Linked DNA regions of Homo sapiens: region 1 is linked to region 2. The links come from fine-mapping of genetic effects on gene expression. A gene starts in region 2. The other region holds a variant in brackets. All regions are shown on one strand. Distances are from middle to middle.

The links.
Region 1: its variant is fine-mapped to the expression of PABPC1L in whole blood (INTERVAL, PIP above 0.99).

Annotation. Positions count from the first base shown.
Region 1 is chr20:44,925,386-44,936,705 of GRCh38, reverse strand. PABPC1L (poly(A) binding protein cytoplasmic 1 like) reads right to left here. Exons shown (of 15, transcript NM_001372179.1): 8 at 5,980-6,246; 9 at 4,274-4,364; 10 at 3,521-3,649; 11 at 1,209-1,315; 12 at 1-69. Among named protein-coding and RNA genes, the nearest start is that of PABPC1L, 21 kb to the right of the region's middle. The variant G/A (reference allele first, on the strand shown) is at 4,681.
Region 2 is chr20:44,904,078-44,915,040 of GRCh38, reverse strand. PABPC1L (poly(A) binding protein cytoplasmic 1 like) reads right to left here and starts at 4,981. Exons shown (of 15, transcript NM_001372179.1): 1 at 4,705-4,981; 2 at 2,188-2,381. The coding sequence starts at 4,897. It overlaps YWHAB (tyrosine 3-monooxygenase/tryptophan 5-monooxygenase activation protein beta), which reads right to left. Exons shown (of 6, transcript NM_139323.4): 3 at 10,925-10,963; 4 at 9,910-10,073; 5 at 8,945-9,040; 6 at 6,509-8,659. The coding sequence ends at 8,603. RefSeq lists a silencer at 4,798-5,127.

The DNA of each region.
Region 1 (11,320 bases), 21 kb before region 2:
GGGCGCCGCAGCCAGCATGGACGCGGTCAGGGGCTCCTGTCCTGGGATGTGCACAGCCGGCTCCTGGACCTGCATGGTGCCGGGGACACATCCCTTAATCACCATGGACAGGCATGTCCTCAAAATACTTACCCTGGCAAGTGAGCAGAAGGCCAGGGAGGCACTGGAGGAGGGGAACAGAGGGCAAGGTCTGGATGATCAGGTGGGGTGGAGAGTCCCCAACAAGGGCAAAGTGGATTAGAAGACAAAGTCATGCCTCTAGCTTAGACGTTTCCTGTAGTGCTACGAACTTATAAAGGTCCCTGATGAACGTTGATAAAGGAAAGCCCTGTGTTACCAATAACTTTGTGCCAAATAAAGCACTTTTTATCAAGTAGATTTATGGACATGTCCCCGGCACACCTCTCACCCTTTCACATCTTGGTAATTTTAAAACATTTTGGCCAGGTGTGGTGGCTCACACCTATAATCCTAGAACTTTGGAAGGCCAAAGTGGGAGGATCGCTTGAGGCCAGGAGTTTGAGATCAGCCTTGGCAACATAATGAGACCCCTGTCACTACAAAAAAATACACAAAATTAACCAGGCATGGTGTCACATGCCTGTACTTGGAGGCTGAGGTGGGAGGATCACTTGAGCCTAGGAGTTCAAGGCTGCAGTGAGCTATGATCACACCACTGCACTCTAACCTGGGTGCTGTCAAAAAAAAGACCCTGTCCAAAAAAAAAAATAGACATTTTTGCTGTTTAAAGACTGTTCTCATTCATTTTGCAGGAAATAGTTCAAAAGAGACACATTGAAATTCTACACAGGATATGATAATGCTGAATTTTAGGCCTTTTTTAGGGGAGGGAGATAAATACACAGTCTTTGATTACAGTAAGTATTTTCTGTTTTGAAGATTAAGTACATCCCTTCAATAATCAGCATATTCTTAGAATACCTTTCCTTGGTGTTCATCACAAATACTAAGGATATCCAAATTAATTTTGGTAATAACCGAAGCAAAACAAATTGTAAATAAAACGTAATGCTGGCCCTCTTTCCCCTTCTCGCAGTAAGGGTGATCTCTTATTGATTGTACACATTAATAAACGAAACTTTACAAGCCAAGAAAAGAAAAAAAGCCAAGGCCCAACACCTTAGCTAAGGTTCTGAGCCAGGCGGCCAGGAGCCCAGGCTAAGAGCAGGCAGCTGGGCTGGCCTTACCCGATAGGTGCTATGTGCTGCTGAGGAACATTTGCACGGCAGGAGCGGCCGGCCTGGTGTACAGCATCCTACCCCACTGGGTCCTGTGGTCTGAGTACCAATGTTGGCTGCAAAACAAAACAAAACAAAACAAAAAAAGCAGAGTTCAAATAGCTGCTATCCAAAAACAAAACAAAACAAAACAACACCAAAACAGAAAATAACAAGCGTTGACAAGAATGTAAAGAAATTAGAAGACTGTGCACTGTTGGTAGGAATGTAAAATGATGTAGCCACTACAGAAAAACAGTATAGGGCTTTCTCAAACAGTTAAACAGAATTACCATATCATCCATCAATTTTACCTCTGGGTATATACCCAAAAGAATTGAAAGCAGGGTTTCAAAGAGCTATTTGTACAAACATTTTCTTTCTTTTTTTTTTTTTTCCTGAGACAGAGTCTTGCTCTGTCACCCAGGCTATAGTGCAGTGGTGTTATCTCGGCTCACTGCAACCTCCCCCTCCTGGGTTCAATCAATTCTCTTGTCTCAGCCTACCAAGTAGCTGGGATTACAAGCACATGCCACCACGTCCGGCTAATTTTTGTATTTTTAGTAGAGACAGGGTTTCACCATGTTGGTCAGGCTGGTTTCGAACTCCTGACCTCATGATCCACCTGCCTCAGCCTCCCAAAGTGCTGGGATTACAGGCGTAAGCCATCACGCCCAGCCTGCACAACCATTTTCACAGCAGCATTATTCACAATACCCAAAGGGTAGAAAAGTGTCCATTGATAGATGAATGAATAAGTAAAAATGAGGTCTATACATACAATGGAATATTATTTAGCCTTAATAAGGAGATTCTGACACACGCCACAACATAGATACATCCTGAGACATGTAAAGTAAAAAAACTAGCCACAAAAAGACAAATACTCTATGATTCTACTTACATGAGGTACCAAGCAAGAACAGTCAAATTCACAGAGACAAAGTAGAATGGCAGTTGCCAAGGGCTAGCGGGAGGAGGAACGAGAAGTTATGGTTTGATGGGTACAGAATTTCGGCTCTACAAGCTGAACAGAGTTCTGGAGAGTGGATGGTGGTGACAGTGCACAACAGTGTGAATATACTTAATGCCATTGATCTGTACACTGAAAAATAGTTAAGTGGTAAATTTTGTTATGTGTATTTTACCACAATAAAAAGGAATAAGCAGGGGTGTCAGGGCCTGGCAGCAACCTAAGGCCAGAGACTGAGTATACCTCGTTCACGCAGAACCTCCAGTGCTGAGCTTGGGGCCCCAGCACACTGTGGATGTGAGAACATTTGCAGAATGAAAGAACAGATGTGCTTGCTGTACAGCCAAAACCTACACCCTTGTTTATAGTCACTGCAATACTTACCAGGCTTTAGGCCCAGTGCTAAGCCCTTTCATGCATGATCTCATTGATCCTCAACAACAAGCCGGGCATGGTGGCTCATGCCTGTAATCCCAGCACTTTGGGAGGCCGAGGCTGGTGGATCACCTAAGGTCAGGAGTTCGAGACCAGCCTGGCCAACATGGTGAAACCCTGTCCCTACTAAAAATACAAAAATTAGCCAAGTATGGTGGCGCATGCCTGTAATCCCAGCTACTCAGGAGGCTGAGGCAGGAGAATCGCTTAGAACCCCGGAGGCAGAGGTTGCAGTGAGCCGAGATCACACCATTACTCTCCAGCCTGGGCGACAGAGCAAGACTCGATCTCAAAAAAAAAAAAAAAAAAAATTAAGGCTGGGCACAGTGGCTCATGCCTGTAATCTCAGCACTTTGGGAGGCTGAGGTGGGCGGATCACCTGAGATCAGGAGTTCAAGACCAACCTGACCAACATGGAGAAACCCCGTCTCTACTAAAAACACAAAATTACCCAGGCATGGTGGCGCATGCCTACAATCCCAGCTACTTGGGAAGCTGAGGCAGGACAATCGCTTGAACCTGGGAGGCGGAGGTTGCAGTGAGCAGAGATCATGCCATTGCACTCCAGCCTGGGCAACAAGAATGAAATTCTGCCTCAAAAAGAAAAAAAAAAACATTTAAATTCTCTACAATAAAATGGGGGTACTATTTTTGTCCCCATTTTAAAGATTAGGTGACAGATATAGTAGTCAGCAAGGGCCTCATAGTCAGTTGGTCCCAGGAACTGGAGGCCAAGCTAACTACCACGCTACAGTCTCCAAAGTCAGCTTTGCTCACCGAGAGGGCATATGGCAAGGTCACCATGGAGGCTGGTCCTGACTCCTAGTGCCAACTTTGCCCCACCCCCATTCCCCTTGGCCCTACCCACACTCACCTACTCTCTGGGTATGAGGCACCGTGCGTGGCACCTGGGTGGAGGCCTGCCTGACACTGCTGATGTGGGCCGGGGGGCGCCGAGGCACAACTGGTGGCCGGACCATTGAGGCACCTGGAGGGTAGGCAGCTTGTGGTGCAGACACCACAGAGAGAGAAAAGTTGGATGGAGTGGTGGGAATAATCAGGGTGGCACACTGTGCCTAGAAGCTTCCAGGGCCACCAAGAGAATGGGAAGGGAAACTACAACATTCACAACAGAAATAGGAGTCAATTCACTTAGACCCAGAACTCCAGAAAGGGGGAGTGTAGGAATCTACAATTTCAAAGCCAGCTCGTGTCTACCTAGAGCCCCAAACTGCATAAGCACCAGGATTGTACACCTTAGTCCCTCAAGATAGTTTCAAGTGAGCGTGCAATTCACTCTTACAGAGGAGGGCCTTTGGTCAACAATATAGCCAGAGGAATTTCACCTTCTCAGCTTTGCAAGAATTTTCAGAGTCACAAATCAGAGGCATCTTTGGTGATGACTGCTGGTGGCTAGCTGCGTGTCTTCCATTGGCTCACCACTGTGCTTGGTACTTTACACACGTCTCATTCAGGCCCATGCTCAGAAGAGGAAACTGAGGCTCAGAGAAGTGAAGTCACCCACCTTGGGAAGTGGCAGAGCCAGGTTTCATCCCTGTGTTATGACTGCCTCACGGGGCCCACACCAATAGGCCAGTCTGAGAGTGGAAGGGGCTGGGTCACTCACAGGAAGGTCTAGGTGGCTGGGATGTCCACCTGGGGGCAGGCTGGGTGGGTGTCACTGGGCCACAGCCATAGTATGCAGCCTGGGCTGGAGGCTGCATGGGAAAAGAAGACCCAGACTGAGGGGCTTGGCGGCAGGGTAGGTGAGAAGCTACACCTCCTCAGGGACACCATGGCAGGAACTCCACTGGCTCCTGCAGGGACTGGTGAGTCAAGACCCACAAGGCTGTAATGAAAGCTCCTTCCTCCCATCTCAGGATGTCCATTAGCCCTGAATCCTGCAGGGCAAAGATCTTAGATTTCAATCTTGGCTCCCTGTCAGCTAACCCAATGACCTGGATAAAAAGGGTGACATCTTACTCCAACTTGTGCAGCTTAAGCAACTGCTAAAAGGAGAGGAATGTTCTTACC[G/A]TGGTGGCCTTTAATGGGTGACATCTTTCTACTTCCTGTAAGTCCCACGAGGTCCTTTCCCAAACCATGCTCCTCAGAACATTAACATCCAGGGGAGATGTTAACAGGCATCCCACAAAAAAATGACCATCTAAGCTGGGGAAATGCTGGATAATCTGTGCCTGTTTTGGAGAGTCTCAGTAGACATTGGCATCTTAGGGTAGAATAGTGTAGATAGTAAAGAAATTTAGGGCCGATCATGGTGGCTCATGCCTGTAATCCCAGCACTTTAGGAGGTCAAGGAGGGCACATCACTTGAGGTCAGGAGTTCAAGACCAGCCTGGCCAACATGGTGAAACCCCGTCTCTACTAAAAATACAAAAAATTAGCTGAGTGTGGTGGCACGCACCTGTAATCCCAGCTACCCGGGAGGCTGAGGCACAAGAATCACTTGAACCCAGGAGGAAGAGTTTGCAGCGAGCCAAGATGGTGTCACTGCACTCCATTCTGGGCAACAGAGCAAGACTCTGTCTCCAAAAAAATAAAAATTTAATTTTTAAAAAAATGTAGGGCGGGGGACGGTGGCTTACTCCTGTAATGCCAGCACTTTGGGAGGCCAAGGCAGGAGAATTGCTTGAGCCCAGGAGTTTGAGACCAGCCTGGGCAACATGGCGAGACCCCTTCTTTAAAATAAACAAAAAAATTAGCTGGGCATGGTGGCACACACCTGTAGTCCCACCTACTCAGGAGGCTACAGTGGGAGGATCACTCAAGCCCAGGAATTCAAGGCTGCAGTGAGCCATGATCATGCCATTGCTCTCCAGCCTGGGTGACATGGAGACCCCGTGAAGGAAGGGAGGAAGGGAGGAAGGGAGGGAAGAAGGAAGGAGCCATGATCACGCCATTGCTCACCAGCCTGGGTGACATGGAGACCCCACGAAGGAAGGAAGGAAGGAAGGGAGGGAGGGAGGGAGGGAGGGAGGGAAGGGAAGGGAAGGGAAGGGAGGGAAGGGAGGGAAGGGAGGGAAGGGAAGGAAGGGAGGAAGGAAAAATGTAGGTCTTGCTTAACGCAGCATTTCCCAAACTTGCTGGATCATTAAGAGTCTTTTTCAGCACAACATTCACGAGCTTCTCTCACTGGGAAATGCCATTTGACTAACACTATCTCTCCCTTTTATAGAGAGGGAAACAAAGACTTCCTAATGAGTCCTCGGCAGAAGCAAGTTAGAAACCTCCATTTCCCTAGAACTCTAGTCTTCATGCTCTGCCTTGCTGGGGCAGGGGGGAAGGCTGCGGTGGGAGTTGCGGGCAGGCCGTCACCTGGGGCATGGCAGGCAGGAAGTAGCTGGAGGGCTGCTGAAAGGAGCCCAGGAGGGGGTTGCTCAGGGTCCGCATGGTGGAGAGGCGCTGCATGTACTGGTTGGTCAAGATGGCCTTCCGCTCCTCTTTGCGCTGGGCCAGTGCCACGTAGAGTGGCTTGGTGCCCACGATGCGCCCGTTCATCTCTGTCACGGCCTTTGTCGCCTCTTCTGGGGAGGAAAAACACACAAAGCCAAACCCCTTGCTGTGGCCACCCTCTGTCATCACCTAAAAGCAAGACAAGACAAGAGCTGCTGGGGTGGGGAAGGAAGGCTCCTGGGGCTGCGCTGCCTCCCTCCTCCCCATGGGCTAAGCCCAGCACTGGGCAGGCCCGCGAGAAAGCTGTGATGGAGGGATGTAGCGTGCACCCCTGTTTACTAAGCTGTGTTCGAGGGATGTAGTGTGCACCCCCGTTTAGCAAGCTGTGATGGAGGGATGTAGCGTGCACCCCCATTTACTGAGGAGTGATGGAGGGATGTAGCGTGCACCCTGTTTACTGAGCTGTTTGAGGGATGCAGCACGCACCCCCATCTATGAGGCCTGCTGCATGCCAGATACTTTACATGTCTTCACACCTCACATGTACAACCTCCCGATGCGGGAGGCATCGCGGCTCCCACTTTACAGCCGGGATAAGAGAGACTCGAAAGAGTGACTTGTCTGGGGTCACTCAGCCTGTGGTTCATACGTTAGCCAGGACTCAACCCAACACATTGTTCTGGTAAGCTTCTATCGCCTCTGCTAAGTACCAAGCCAAGTTCTTTAGGAATTTGGGGAAGAGGTTCTTAGCCTTTTTGTTAAAATAACCTTTTTACTTTGGAGTAACTTTAGATTTACAGAAAAAGTTACAAAAACAGTACAGAGGGTTGCTATATATCTTTTTTTTTTTTTTTGAGACATAGTTTCACTCTGTCACTCAGGCTAGAGTGGAGTGGCACGATCTCGGCTAACTGCAACCTCAGCCTCCCGGGTTCAAGCAATTCTCCTGCCTTAGCCTCCTGGGTAGATGGGACTACAGGCGTGTGCCACCACACCTGGCTAATTTTTGTATTTTCAGTAGAGAGAGGGTTTCACCATGTTGGCCAGGCTGGTCTCAAACTCCTGACCTCAAGTGATCTGCCTGCCTCAGCCTCCCAAAGTGCTGGGATTACAGGCGTGAGCCACCATGCCTGGCCTGCTGTATATCTTTCACCCAGTTTCCCCCAATGTGAACATGGTACATTTTTCAAAACTACAAAATTAACACTGGTGCAATGCTATTAACTATTTTATACCATTAGCTCCTATTAACTACAATGCTATTAACTGAACTCCAGACTTCACTGGAATTTCACTCTTTTTTCCCCTAATATTCTTTTTCTCTTCCAGGATCCAACCCACATGGCATTTAGGGTTTGTCTTTTTGTTTATTTGTTTGTTTTTTAAAGAGATGGGGTCTCACTCTGTCATCCAGGCTGGAGTGCAGTGGTATGATCATAGCTCACTGCAGCCTCAAACTCCCGGGCTCCAGGGATCCTCCTGCCTCAGCCTCTCAAGTAGTTAGGGCTATAGGTACATGCCACCACACCCAGCTAATTTTTTTTTTTAAGTTTGTAGAGATCAGCAATCACTATGTTGCCCAGGCTGGTCTCAAGAGATCCTCCTACCTAGGTCTCCCAAGGTGCAGGGATTACAGGCAGGAGCCACCACACCTGGCCCTGGGTTTTTAACCTTTTTTTAGGGTGAAGACACCGGCCTGGCTCATACAGCCCATAAGGACTAGAGTTATTTTTAAAATCTTCTTTTTTTCCTTTTTTTTTTTCTTTTTTTTTTTTTTTTTTTTTGAGTCAGGATCTCACTCTGTCACTCAGGCTGGAGTGCAGTGGTGCAATCTCAGCTCAACTGCACCCTCAACCTCTCAGCCTCAAGTGATCCTCTCAACTCAGTCTCCCAAGTAGCTGGGACTGCAGACAAGCACCACCATGCCTAATTTTGTTCATTTTTTGTAAAGATGAGGTCTCATCCTGTTGCCCCGGCTGGGCTTGAACTCCTGGTGAGCCCACGCTCTTAATCAGTAATTTTGAAACTGTACTCTGCTACCCTTCAGTAGAGGGGTCTTAACCTGAGAGTCCATGGATCCCCCTCAGGTAGGTCATGGATACAATTTAGGGGGAAATTGCATGGATTGGGGAAAAAGTGACATCTTTATTTTCATATTAGCATTTCCTTCTATTATGAATATGGGCAACAACAAAAAAATCCTGGCAGTATTAGCCATGAATTTGTCATGAAGAAAAAGAAAATATTTTCATATCACATTAATTATTGCTAATCTCAGCCGAGCGCAATGGCTTATGCCTGTAATCCCAGCACTTTGGGAGGCCAAGGTGGGCAGATCACCTGAGGTCAGGAGTTCGAGACCAGCCTGGCCAACATGGTGAAACCCCATCTCTACTAAAAATATACAAAAATTAGCTGGTTATGGTGGCGGGTGCCTGTAATCTCAGCTTCCCAGGAGGTTGAGGCAGAACCCAGGTTCTTGAACCTGGGAGGCAGAGGTTGTAGTGAGCCAAGATCATGCCACTGCGCTCCAGTCTGGGCGACAGAGTGGGACTTCGTCTCAAAAAAATAAAAATAAAAATAATAAAAGAAGCACATACTGCTTTCACTTTAGTATTTTGACCATTATATTTTTTCAGTATGATTTTTTTGTACACCTAAGAATCTTATTTTATGCATTTAAAAATATTCTTAGGGCCAGGTTTGGTGGCTCATGCCTATTTTTGGGAAGCAGAGGCGGAAGAATTGCTTGAGCCCAGGGGTTTGAGACCAGCCTGGGTAATATAAAAAATAATTATCCAGGCATAGTGGTGCTCCTATAGTCTCAGCTACTTGGGAGGCTGAGACAGGAGATCACTTGAGGCCAGGAGTTGGAGGCTGCAGTGAGCTGTGATGGCACCACTGCATTCCAGCCTGGGTGATAGAGCGAGACTCTGTCTCAAAAAAGTTTTTAAAAAATATTCTTAGAAGGGTTCCACAGGCTTCATCAGATAGCCAAAGGGCCGGGCACAGTGGCTCACGCCTGTAATCCTAGCACTTTGGGAGGCTGAGGCAGGTGGATCACCTGAGGTCAGAAGTTCGAGACCAGCCTGGCCAAAATAGTGACACCCCATCTCTACTAAAAATACAAAAAATTAGCTGGGCATGGTGAGAGGCGCCTGTAATCCCAGCTACTCAGGAGGCTGAAGCAGGAGAATCACTTGAACCCAGGAGGCAAAGGTTACAGTGAGCTAAGATTGCACCATTGCACTCTAGCCTGGGCAACAAGAGCAAAACTCCATCTCAAAAAAAAAAAAATATATATATATTGTTAAGAACTTCTGGCAGTCGGTAGTTAATAATGATAAAATTTAGCAAAGCTAACACTTATGCAGAGCTTACCATGAACTTGATAGTGGTATAAGTATTTATATCCATTAATTCCTTTAATTTTCATAATTATTTTTATATAAAACAAAATACAGGCCAGATGCAGTGGCTCATGCCTATAATCCCAGCACTTTGGGAGGCTGAGGTAGGAGGACTGCTTGAGCCCAGGAGTTCAAGACAAGCCTGGACAACACAGCAAGACTCCCAATTTCTACCAAAAAAAAATTTTTTTTTAAATCAGCTGGGCATGGTGGCACATGCCTGTGGTCCCAGCTACTTAGGAGGCTCAGGTGGGAGGATCACTTGAGCCCAGGAGGTTGAGGTTGTGGCGTGCCATGATCACATCATGGCCCTCCAGCCTGGGCAACAGAATAAGAACCTGCATCTAATAAAAAATAATAATAAACCAAAATATATAAAATCGCATAACATAGGCCAGGCACAGTGGTTCACGCCTATAATCTCAGCACTTTGGGAGGCCAAGGCGGGCAGATCACCTGAGGTCAAGAGTTCAGGACCATCCTGGCTAACATGGTGAAACCTCATCTTTACTAAAAATACAAACATTAGTAGGGCTTGGTGGCGGGCGCCTGTAATCCCAGCTACTCAGAAGGCTGAGGCAGGAGAATTGCTTGAACCTGGGAGGCAGAAGTTGTAGTGAGCCAAGATCGCGCCATTGCACTCCAGCCTGGGCGACAAGAAGGAAACTCTATCTCAAAATAAATAAATAATTGTATAATATATATATATATGTAGGCTGGGCGTGGTGGCTCATTCTTGTAATTGCAGCACTTTGGGAGGCTGAGGCGGGCGGATTACTAGGTCAGGAGTTTGAGACCAGCCCGGCCAACACAGTGAAACCCCGTCTCTACTAAAAATACAAAAATTAGCTGGGCATGGTGGCAGGTGCCTGTAATCCCAGCTACTCAGGAGGCTGAGGGAGAAGAATCACTTGAACCCGGGAGGCGGAGGTTGTAGTGAGCCGAGATGGCGCCACTGCACTCTAGCCTGGGCAACAGAGCTAGACTCCATCACACACACAAAAAATAGATATATTTATAATCCCCATTTTATACCGTTTGTCCTGTTAAAAAGATGGTCACCCCAGGTGTGCCTTAACTCTAAGCAATCCAAATTTACACATTTCCTTTGTTCGGGGAGTCCTCAAGAAGGTCCATCTCCTGAAGCTGTATGCAAGGTGTATGATGAATCATTACGACAATCACTATTTCACTACTTATTGAATGCAGATGCTGTACATGCAGCCTCTTTAGTAGTTCTTAGGACACCTGGAGAGGTGAGAAATGTTGCTCCCACTTTATAGGTGAGTAAACAAGGTCCGAAAAGCAAAGCCACTTGCCTCAGTTTCTACAGCTAGGTAATGGTAGGACTGGGGTTTACATTTAAACCTGATTAACTTTAAAATTCCAGCTTTCAACCATGTTTCTACATCAAATGTATATGCATTTGCTTGGAAAGAGGACCTATAGCTTTTTATGATGTGTAATCAAATTTACTGATGCCTAATTTACATGTGCCACAGCCTTCTCTCGCATTTTTCAAAAGGATCTTAACCTAAAAGACAACCTTTTTTCCTCCAAACACAAGGCTCCCTGAAGGATGTTTACAACTGGACTCAGTAGCCAAAAGAGAACTTCTAGACCACTTCCTCAGAACCCAACATCACATCATTCAGGCGGGTCCCCCCATCCTGTCACTCACACTGATCTCTTTGGAAAATTCCTCATTCCCACTCCAGCTCCCTACCTCCTCACAGCCAAGTCAAACACTGCTGCTACTGCCACTTCTTCCAGGCAGCCTTCCCTTCTGTTCCACTGAACTCCTGTAGCTTTGCCTCCCATACTGTCCCCCATCTTATAATCCATTTGAGTTA
Region 2 (10,963 bases):
GATTTAACCACGTTGACTGGGTCCCCACTGTGGGTCAAGAACCTGCTAAGGGCATTACATACTTCCCTTGTTATCTATGCCAGTCATAAGAGAATCCTTTCAGTCATTTCTTAACCTCTGAGCCCCAGAGGGAAAATGAGAATAAATGACTTGTCCAAGGTCAGCCAACAGAAGTAATTCTTTGATTGTTACAGTTATCACTTAGAAGCTTAACAGTATGCCAGGTACCCTTTTAAGGAGTATACATGTATGCAGAAAACCTAACACACAGAAAGTACATGATAAATCTGCCATTATTATTGTGAAGAACTTAATACACAGTTAAGAGTCTTTCTTCCTTTGATCCTCAAAGACAGGAAACAGCCCCGTCTCTCTGTCACAGATAACCCTTAGTGCATTACTACATCTCCTCAAGTCTACCTGCTCCTCTGAGCCACAGGGATAGCCTCTTATTGACTGGGAATTTGAGAGCCCTCGTTGAGAACTTAAGGATTATGCTTGGCACACAGTAGCACTTGATAAAAGTTCTGACATGCCAGGTGCAGTGGCTCACGCCTGTAATCCCAGCACTTTGGGAGACTGAGGCGGGCGGATCACAAGGTCAGGAGATCGAGACCATCCTGGCTAACACGGTGAAACCCCGTCTCTACTAAAAATACAAAAAAAATTAGCTGGGCGTGGTGGCGGGCACCTGTAGTCCCAGCTACTCAGGAGGCTGAGGCAGGAGAATGGCGTGAACCTGGGAGGAGGAGGTTGCAGTGAGCTGAGATCGCGCCACTGCACTCCAGCCTGGGCAACAGAGTGAGACTCCGTCTCAAAAAAAAAAAAAAAAAAAAGTTCTGACACATAGGCTACAAAAACTGTCCCCATCCTCCCTAGAATAGCAGACACTCCAAAGGCTACGGGGTAACTGATCAACTATCCTTATAAAATCTAGAGACAGAACACCCAGGTTTAAGCCCTCTGTTCCAGACATACTGACCTGCTATATGGCCGCTGATCCTCAACATCCTCATATAAAAAGTCAGAGAAATAATCAGAATCCTTCTCAAATGACATACCTCCACTGGCTCAACATATATTTATTGAGCACCTAATATGTTTCACATCTTATTCTAAGTATTGGGATACAATAATGACTAAGAACAAGATCACTGATGGAACTTACATCTAATGTAAGACAATCTTAAAAACAAGATTCAATAACTTAATTGCCTTGATGGCCCCAATTAATGGCCTTCCTGTAGCCACACCCTTCATCCTATAATTTCTACTCCCCTCTCACTCTGAATGTGGGCTGGTCTTGTGACTTGCTTTGGTCAATAGAATGTAGTGAAAGAGGCCAGGTGCGGTGGCTCATGGCTGTAATCCCAGCATTTTGGGAGGTCAGGAGTTCGAGACCAGCCTGGCCAACACAGTGAAACCCACCCTGTCTCCACTAAACATACAAAAATTATCCAGGCATGGTGGCTCGCACCTGTAATTCCAGCTACTCGGGAGGCTGAGGCAGGAGAATCGTTTGAACTCAGGAGGCTTGAACCCAGGAAGTTGCAGTAAGCTGAGATCATGCCACTGTACTCCAGCCTAGGCAACAGAGTAAGACTGCATCTCAATTAAAAAAAAAAAACGTAGTGGAAGTGATGGTTCCAGTTCTGCATTTAGTTCTCAAGAGGCCTGGTGTGCTTCCACTCTTGTCTTCTGAGCCCCTGCCATTGCCATGAGAATACCATGAGAATAGCCTGGACTAGCCTACTGGAGGACAAAAGGCCATAGGGAGGAAAGCCAAGATGTTCCAGCTGACAGCCAGTCGCTCCCTCATATACCCAGCGAGAGCTCCCACTCAGCTTTCAGTGGGCATAGGAGGGAACCCAGCCAAGACCAGAAGAACTGCCCAGCTGAACTTTGCCCATTGCCAACTGTGGAATTATTAGCTAAATAAATGATTGTTGTTGACGGCCACTAAATTTGAAGGTGGTTACACAGCGAGAGCTGACTGATACACAGGTAATGTCTGGTCATTCACGGAAGATGAAACTGAAAGAACGGCTGTCATTCAGGTGCTTGCTGTACCTGAAACTTGACTGAAAGGACCTTGTAAACTGTAAAGTGAGGTGTTGCTTGTCACCCCTCTACCAGGCAGGTAGTTGACACCGATCTACCCAAAGACGTACACCCTTCATCCTCTACCTTGCAAGAGAGGATGTTCCCAAAGGTGGAGAAGGTATCATATAAAGCCTTGTTGTCAATGGAGTCCTCCAGGTTCTTGATGAAGATGTTGCCCACACCTGACTTGCGAAGTCCTGGGTCTCGCTGGGACCACATGATGCGAATAGGCTGGCCTTTGAGCATCTCAAAGTTCATTGTGTCCAGTGCCCGCTCCGCTGGACAGAAGGAAGAGGAGAGAAATTAGCAAGTTTAGGGAATTTTCTTACCTTGATCACCCACCCCTCGAGGTGCTTAACTGGGAGCCAATAAAGAGAAAGTCATTGTCTGGGTCCCAGACAATAAGCCAAGATAAGAGCCCAAATAACTGAGATAAGAGCCCAAAGGCTCAGGAAGGATAAGCTGAGAATTAGTGTGTATGGTGCTCCCCCAACCTTCCAGTTATGATCTCATTCAACCAACTCCCTGCAGCCACATGAGCATGGATTCCTGCCCCTCATTTTACAGATGGGAAAACTGAGAATAAGAAACATGAAAGGTCTGTGGCAGCGTCAGGTCTATTCTGGATTCTAAAGTACACTGAGTGGATAACAATGTCCATATGACAAGGGGTGGCAGCACTTTGAGGAAATTAAAACTCAGAGGTGCTGCAGGGCAGAGCTGAGGTTAGATCTCAAGCAGTCCGGCTCTGGGGAAAGTGGACATTACCTCTCTGAGCCTGTTCCTCACCTGTAAAGGGGGAATGATGGTAATATTACCTACTTTTCCACACCTAACAAAGGGAGATACTACCAACTACCAGGTTGTTGGAGGGACTGAAAAATAAAGAAGGTATGTAAAAGTGCCTTGTTTGTAACTTTGTGCCTGACACAAAATAATGTCTCAAAACAGCAGCCGATGCCCAGCCTCCGGCCACTGCTGCAGCCTGTGTCTCTCCTGGGTGATACACGTGACCTGTTTCAGGGAGTCTGCTAGTGCAGAGACATGGAAGGGGGCTGTGGGGAACACAGTGGAGCAAGTTTCAGGAAGCCCGGATTCTCCACCTAGTCTTATCATAAATACCTGGGGCAAAACCCTTCTCTCTGCAGCACGGTTTCCAGGCCGAGTCCCACTTCATTCACAGGGCTTGGAGGAAGATGGGAAGAGGCAGGAGGTGGAGCAAAGCAGAACAAACAGAAAAGTGCCCAGGAATCCAGCCCAGTAAGGGGCGGGGAACAGGCCCGGCGGAACAACCCCTTCCCTAGCAAACCACCCACTCAGGCAACCACCAGGTTCACCCAGGCGACCTGGCGCAAGGGATCCCTCTAGTGGACGCCGGCCATTTTTTGGGTGAGTTTCTGGAGTCTTACATCAGAATGTTAAAGCCACTATTTTCGTTGTTGTTTCTTTTTTGTTTGTTGTTTTGTTTTGTGTTGAGATGGAGTCTCGCTCTGTTGCCCGGGCTGGAGTGCAATGGCGCAGTCTCGGCTCACTGCAACCTCTGCCTCCCGGATTCAAGCGATTCTCGTGCCTCAGCCTCCCCAGCAGTTGGGATTACAGGCGTCCGCCATCATGCCCAGCTATTTTTTGTATTTTTAGTAGAGAAAGGGTTTCGCTATGTTGGCCAGGCTGGTCTCGAACTCCTGACCTCAAGTGATCTGCCCACCTCGGCCTCCTAAGATGCTGGGATTACAGGCGTGAGCCACTGCGCCTGGCCTTATTTATTTATTTATTTATTTATTTATTTATTTATTTATTTATTTTAGGTTACCACTTAAGAGCGTTTACGAGGTAACAAGCAGTTACCATTCTTTATGCATAGACAGCAGTTCTCCATTCTTTATGTTATTGGAGAATACGCCTTAGCCCCATTTTGCAGATGAAAAGGTGCAGAGCGTGAAGGCTTGCCCAAGCTCACTCATCCTCTCCACTCTCAACAGAAGTGCAGGCAAACTCATCGGACAAGCTCTAATCAATGCTATCAGCTCTGAGAAAGCGGCCTTGCGGCCTGGAGGCAGCGGTTTTTCAGAGCCCGTGCAGGTAGAGGCGCCCAGTGTGGATCTCACGTCGCGCTGGGAAAGGCCTGAGCCCAAGGCTGGGTTCTCCTGCCTCCCCTGCTCACCAGCTGTGTTGCCTTGGGCATCTTCCTCACCAGGTGCTTTGAATCTCTCATCCTCACAAGCACTCTATAAGGCAGCTAGGACCCCCATTTTCCAGACACGCATCTGAAGCTCAGAATGGTCGAGTAACTTGCCCAGAGTCACACGGCTGCTGGGCTTCTATCCCTGGTCCGCCTGACCCCCACCCCCACCCCCACAAAGCCTGTATCTGTTTTCACTCGACCCTAATCTCTCTCCTCTGTAGAGGAATAGCAGTAAACCACACTAATTACCAATTCCCGTCTCAGGGGCCAGGCCTCTGCCAACGCCCTGTTATCTTTGAGCCTCAGTTTCCCCGGCTGCAAAGTGTAAGATGAAAGCGCAAGCGGCCCAGTTCCGGCTTCTGTCTGTCCGCCTGCTTGTCCGTCGGTCCTTCCCCTCCCGCCCCATCCCCGGGGCTCACCGTCCGCGGGCTGCTGGAAGTTGATGTAGGCGTAGCCCAGCGAGCGCCGGGTGGCTACATCGCGGCACACGCGGATGGACAGGATGGGGCCGGCGGGAGAGAACTTCTCATAGAGCATGGCCTCGGTCACGTCGGGGTGCAGATCGCCCACGTAAAGCGAGGCAAGCGGGTAGCCAGAACCGCTGGCGTTCATGGTGGGCAGGGGGCCGGGGCTGCGGGGCAAGCAGGAGCCGGGTCACCCAGCAGCCCCGCGCTCACCCGGGCGGAAGCCCTCCTTCCTGGGCGCGGGCCCGCCCCTTCCCTTTACCGCCCCCGCGTCCCTGCGCACCAATCGTGGGCGCGCTCGGACGCCCCTCCCCCGGGATCCCTCCTGGGCCCACCCCCCACCTGCGAGCACTTGGGGATCTAAAAGCTACAGGTGGGGACACCTCTGACCCCGCCCTGGGAGGCGGAAAAAGCCTTCAACCTGGCCTTGAGCAGGGCTGCTGGGACTTGAGTGGAGCTCTCAAAACCCCCAGCTCTTTTGAAAGAGCCGAGGACTGGGACGGAAAGGACGCAGGGGACTGAGTTCTAACCCCGGAACAGATGATCATCTTTCTGAACCCGTTTCCCTTCTCTGTAAAATGGGAATGATTCCCTCCTGACAAGAATGAAAGGAGACCCAAACCGCGCTTTTTGCGTTTCACACACAAACGGAATTCCGAACAGGCCACTGTTTCAAAGCTTGTGTAGAGAATTTTACCCTGCTCCATTGAAGATGTCTTCCTCCAGAGAGCCTGATCCAGTCCCACCGTTTCGCACCAAGGATGGAAATGGCTTTGAGACATGAGAACTGGAGACCACTAAGGCCTTTCTTGGTACTGGCTCATATTACCAAGACCCCTTTTCCTGGGATATTCCCTGTCCCTCTGCTAAGCCATTACACATCCATTACACCAGGGAGGTTCACTGAGTTACTTGTGGCTCAGCCTAAATGCGGACAATTGGGAACTAATAGCAGAGCAAGACCTAAACAGAGCAAGACTGTGAATCTGAGCTTGCAGCGTCAATCTGTGGTATAGGGACATTAAAAACAACACAAAAACAAAACAACTACTCCACTGAGCACCAATACTTCACTTTTCCTCTGATAGGACTTTCCTGGTCTCACTGATCCAACAGAGCAGGTAGGCCCCCACTGACTTTTGGTTGAGTGTGGCTTCAACAGGTGGAACAGCTCCTAAACTAGGGACAGAAGGTGCCCATCTGGCTGTCCAGCCTCAGAGTAGCAAGGAAGCACTAATTCTAATCTTGGGCTAAAAAAGACCCCTCTATCCTGATATTTTTCTCTCCTTGTGGTAATGTGGATGTTTTCAGAAGGGGCAAATCCTGTGAGGAACCAGCTCTGCAGGCCACCATACAGTGTGAGGACAGGTGAGACGCCAGCTTGGTGATGACCAAGACTTATGCAACCATAGGTTACCTATTTCACTGGCTTGGTTGTATCTCAGAGTTAAAAAATGGGGAAGGGATGGTGGGCTCGAATACAATGCAAAATAACTGTCCATACCAAATCTTAGAAGTCACTAAAGAGGACCTAATACCTGCATGGTTTGTTGTGGAAGGTAGAGAGGTATCAAGTAACGGGTGTAAAGAGGCTGTTTAATTAATGGTAATTTCTTCCCCTGGATAACACCTTGACTTCTGGTCCTAAATAATGAAATAAAACTGTTTGCCTATTTTTAAAGAAAACAGAGTTAAAAATAAGTGTGATCAGAATAGTTAGCTAGGTCTGGTAACAACAGAGATGGTGGTGACACATCAATTCACAGGCAACTAACTGATAAAATTTTTATTTCACTTTTGAATTTTTACACTTTTCCTGATTATTCTGTGTAAGGTGAAACTAGAACTGTTTAAAAGACATACACAAATCTAGTACATCAATAACCGGGGATTTTTCTTTTTTGCTATACTATTTTCACAACCACGGGTGTGCTTGCTAGGCAATATAACCATCACAGAAGCAAACGTTAGGCAGAATACTGGTAAGAAAAAACAAAGCAAGAAAAGAGCTACCAGATATACAGACAGGCTTGGTTCCACATTCACTACTGCATTTTCAAGCGCCAAGTATTAACTGCACATTTTTGTTCAGCTAGAAAGGAGGGATTTTTTTTTTTGTTTTTTTCTTTTTTTTTGGTTTGTTTTAAATCAGTGCATAAATTTTTCTTTTCTCATTTCAGCAGATGGACAAACAGATGGACTCTACAGCTAAGTGGAATATCAAAGGTAGAGGGGTGATTCTGTGAGACTGATAGGCCTGACTATTCTCAATTCTCCCCACTGCAGTGTTCACGCAACTTCCCTGAATATAGGGTCTCCTTAAACACATCTGAGCACTGACCTGGATGAGTGCACTTGGGAGACCTGGTGACAGGCACAAAAAGCATGATCAGGGCTAGCCTCAATACAGGGAGAAATCATGGATATTTAAAAATACTTTTTTGATTCAGATTCCGGTATGACTGAAGAGCAACACCGTGTTGAGAACTGGAGGAAGACAGGGTTCTGGTGCCAGAAGCTCTTCTCCAATCTTTAAAGCCAGGCTTGCTCACCAAGGTGCTCAGTAATGTCTCTCACCCCTGCCCATATATAGCATTAAAAAGTGAACAAAAGACAGATAAAGATAGAATTCAAAAAGGAAAAAAAGTAAGGAAGCAGAGGGACAGAAACTTAGAAGAGAAAACCAAGGTCAACAGTCAAAAAGGATGGTGGGAAAGAATGTTTAGATTTCAAAATTTAAAAGCCCCGAGCTAGGAAGAACCTGAAAACTGAGTACTCCTCAAGTGAAAGGCCATCTCTACAGAACATCATTCCTTTTTTTGTTTTTTGTTTTCTTTTTTGGAGATGAGGTCTCGCTATGTTGCCCAGGCTGGAGTGCAGTTATTCACAGGTGCAACCACAGGGCACTGCAGCTTTAAACTCCTGGGCTCAAGCGATCCTCCTGCCTCAGCCTCCCAAATAGTTGGGACTAGATGCACGCACCACCACGCCTGACTCAGGACATTATTCTTAAAGGTATTATCCAGGAAACAGATAAGGTCATTCATAAAACACACGGCTTTTTTTCTTTAGCTCAGTGTTAACAATGAAAGTAGATTCCACTATTGAAGCACAAGTTGCAAATTGGTAACATAGTGAACATATTGCTGTAGGAAAGGGGGTTCAGTGTGGTGTGTTATATGAGCACTTGAACTTTTCAAGGTGTCATAAGCCAGTTATCTGCCACAAAGAATTTCCATTTCAGGATTCGAGTTTCCTCAGAGGAAGACACTGTGGACATTTGTGGTCATGAACTTTTAAGTGGCAACAGCCCAAACAGGTCAAGTGTCTTTAAGTCCCGAACAACGGCAGCATTACTGTGAATTACCATTCAACTCAAATGCCAAATGATGTGTGTCTCACTCCAAGTTCCAGCATCACAATATAATCTCTATAACTTTCTGTACAACTTTACAATGGAATTGTATTTCAATGATTATTTTGATATCAGATTAAACCTTCCAAAAAGTTACACATAATTCAGGTCTATTTTTTCTACCAGTAAGAGTTCTGCTAAATTACAAAACCCCATAATCACAGTGTTCAGTTTTTAAAAAATTAAACACACAGTAATCCTGTCAATGTTAATCAAAATCAAAACTTCGGAATGCCGTGGCATTTATGTGACCAATCTGAGTTTTAGATACAAATACCAGCTGTTTATCCCATGAACCATTTTTCCTAGGCTGAGGCTGTGAAAAATCGAAAGTCGACGTACGATTCTCTTTTTTTTTTTTTTTTTTTTTTTATCGCACAAGGGATATATGTTGAGGGTACAGAGTGACACTGAACAGATCACAAAGCACGAGAAACATTAGTTCTCTCCCTCCCCAGCGTCTCCTTCGTCTCCCTGGTTTTCCGATGTCCACAGCTGCAAGAGAAAGGAAGTATAATCAAAGCAGGGCTACTAAAAGTTCCCTAGGTAAGTGGCCCAGTATGTATAATCTTATCTCACTCGACAGTTTAAAATTATTCCTGTGTCACTGCAGACAGGGATGATTGCAAAGGTCAAAACTTCAGCAGTCATTTATAACAAATTTAACAACTTAAAACTGTAACTACATTTAATGGTACAAATCCCCTCTTGAAGATAACAGTGAATTATTAAGTAGGTGAATAGGAAAGAGACTATAAACCCTGTGGAAGTAGTACTTACAGTGAGATTGTCCCTAAGTAACTGCATGATCAGAGTGCTGTCTTTATAAGACTCTTCATTCAGCGTATCCAATTCAGCAATTGCTTCATCAAATGCCTAAAACAAAGAGCCTTTAGCAAAGAATTCACAAGTTCTCTGGAGCTAGTTTAGCCCACTTTTTTTCCCGCTAGGTGAATATAACTTATCTTCTTGTACAGTACTTTGGGGGAACCTAGGCTATTATTACCCTGTCTGTTAGCTGTTTCCAGCAGAAGTATAAGGCATATTTACAAAGCACCAACCAACAATGACAGAAACTCCAAGGTAAGAACTTTGCTGTACCTAATAACTAAGCAGTATTACTGCTAACCCTAGCACAGTCATTCTGGGCAAACGCGTGTGATTTTTTAATTACCAAAGACTTTTCTAGCAATCTTCTATTTAAAATTATTTATTTATTTAAACTAAAACTCAAAATGTCTGGAAACTCACATCACTAAATCTGATTTAAGTGACGGAACTTTAAGGCACCTTTCCCGAATAAAAATGTTTTTAAAAAGTTGTGTGCATGTTGAGGGACTATAAAAAATATGTAGAGAAGGCCAAAGGAAGAATATGGAAGGTAATCCAACACACAACAAGAATGTGCTGTGTATTTCTTTTATACAACTATAACCTCAAATCTTGGCATGAGAATGACAATGTATAACCAAGGCCCAAAGCTTGGTAAGAAACAACTAACTACATTCACCTGGAACTTTCTACAACCACCCGCAAAAAACAGTAATCAAACAAAGTCAGCAGAAGGTATTGAGAATGAATTAAAAAAGTAACAGATCTGTATTTATCTCATAAAAGATACACTCCCACCCCCAGAAAATCTTTCAAAAAAAGTCCAAGACAATGAGTATGTTCAGGAATAAAATGAAGTTAATAACACAAGCACTGTTTTGCTATGGTTAGATATCACAAAGGGTCTTTCTCACCGTTTTTGCCAGGCTACAGGCCTTTTCAGGAGAGTTTAGAATCTCATAGTAAAAGACTGAGAAATTTAGTGCCAGACCAAGACGAATTGGGTGTGTAGGCTGCATTTCTTTCTTACTAATTTCAAATGCTTCCTGGTAAGCCTGCTGGGAGTTCGACACAGTGGCTGTAACATAAAGATGAAAATATTAAAGGCTCGGTTCTTTCATAGGTATCACACATTGGACCAACTATCAAATTATTTTCTCAGTCCCAAACTGGGCAGGAGCAATGACCTATCAAATGAAGTGTCAGTGTCTCTGCCATTCAATTATACATTTGTTAGATATTTATTCTAAACCAAGTTGTATATTAAATGCTTTGGGGGAAAACAATTATGACAAAGTCTACTAAAGCAGTTAAATACAGCTATAACCTTTAACAATATAGAATGTGAAAAACCATACATTCTAGTGCAAACATCACAGGCTTTAGAGTCGATAGATCCAAACTTTAATTCCCAACTCTTACTCCCTAGGTCTGTGGCTTGGGGCAAGTAGAAACCTCCATAAACCTCAGTTTATATGAAAAATGGGCAGCCTGCCACCTAACTCGTAAGGCTGTGTGAAGAGTAAGTGAGACTCGGAAGTACTTGGCACAGAAGCACTTAATAAAGTGTGGTTAAGATTACCACCATCACGGTAATACATGTGATAAATGCAATGCATCACTAGGGTAGTTTCGTACCACCAAGTATAAAAAGTTCACTGCTAAAAAGAGAGCTAACAAATAATACTCAAGATAAGATCTTTTTAAATACACTGCGCACCAGGTTTGTAATGCCCTCCATACTTCCCTGTCAGATAAATTTTTATTTGCCCGCCCATGACCCCGTTCGTCACAATGCTGTGGTCTTTTAAATTCTTAGTACTGTGACATTGGTGTCTATGGCGAACAAAGCAAAAATCGTTAAAAAGTCCCTGTGAAAGAAGACTGGCTCCATTACTGGTCGAATTTCTTTTTAAAGATATTACTTACTTTGTTTGTTGTCTCCAGATGCCACTTCAGAAAGATACC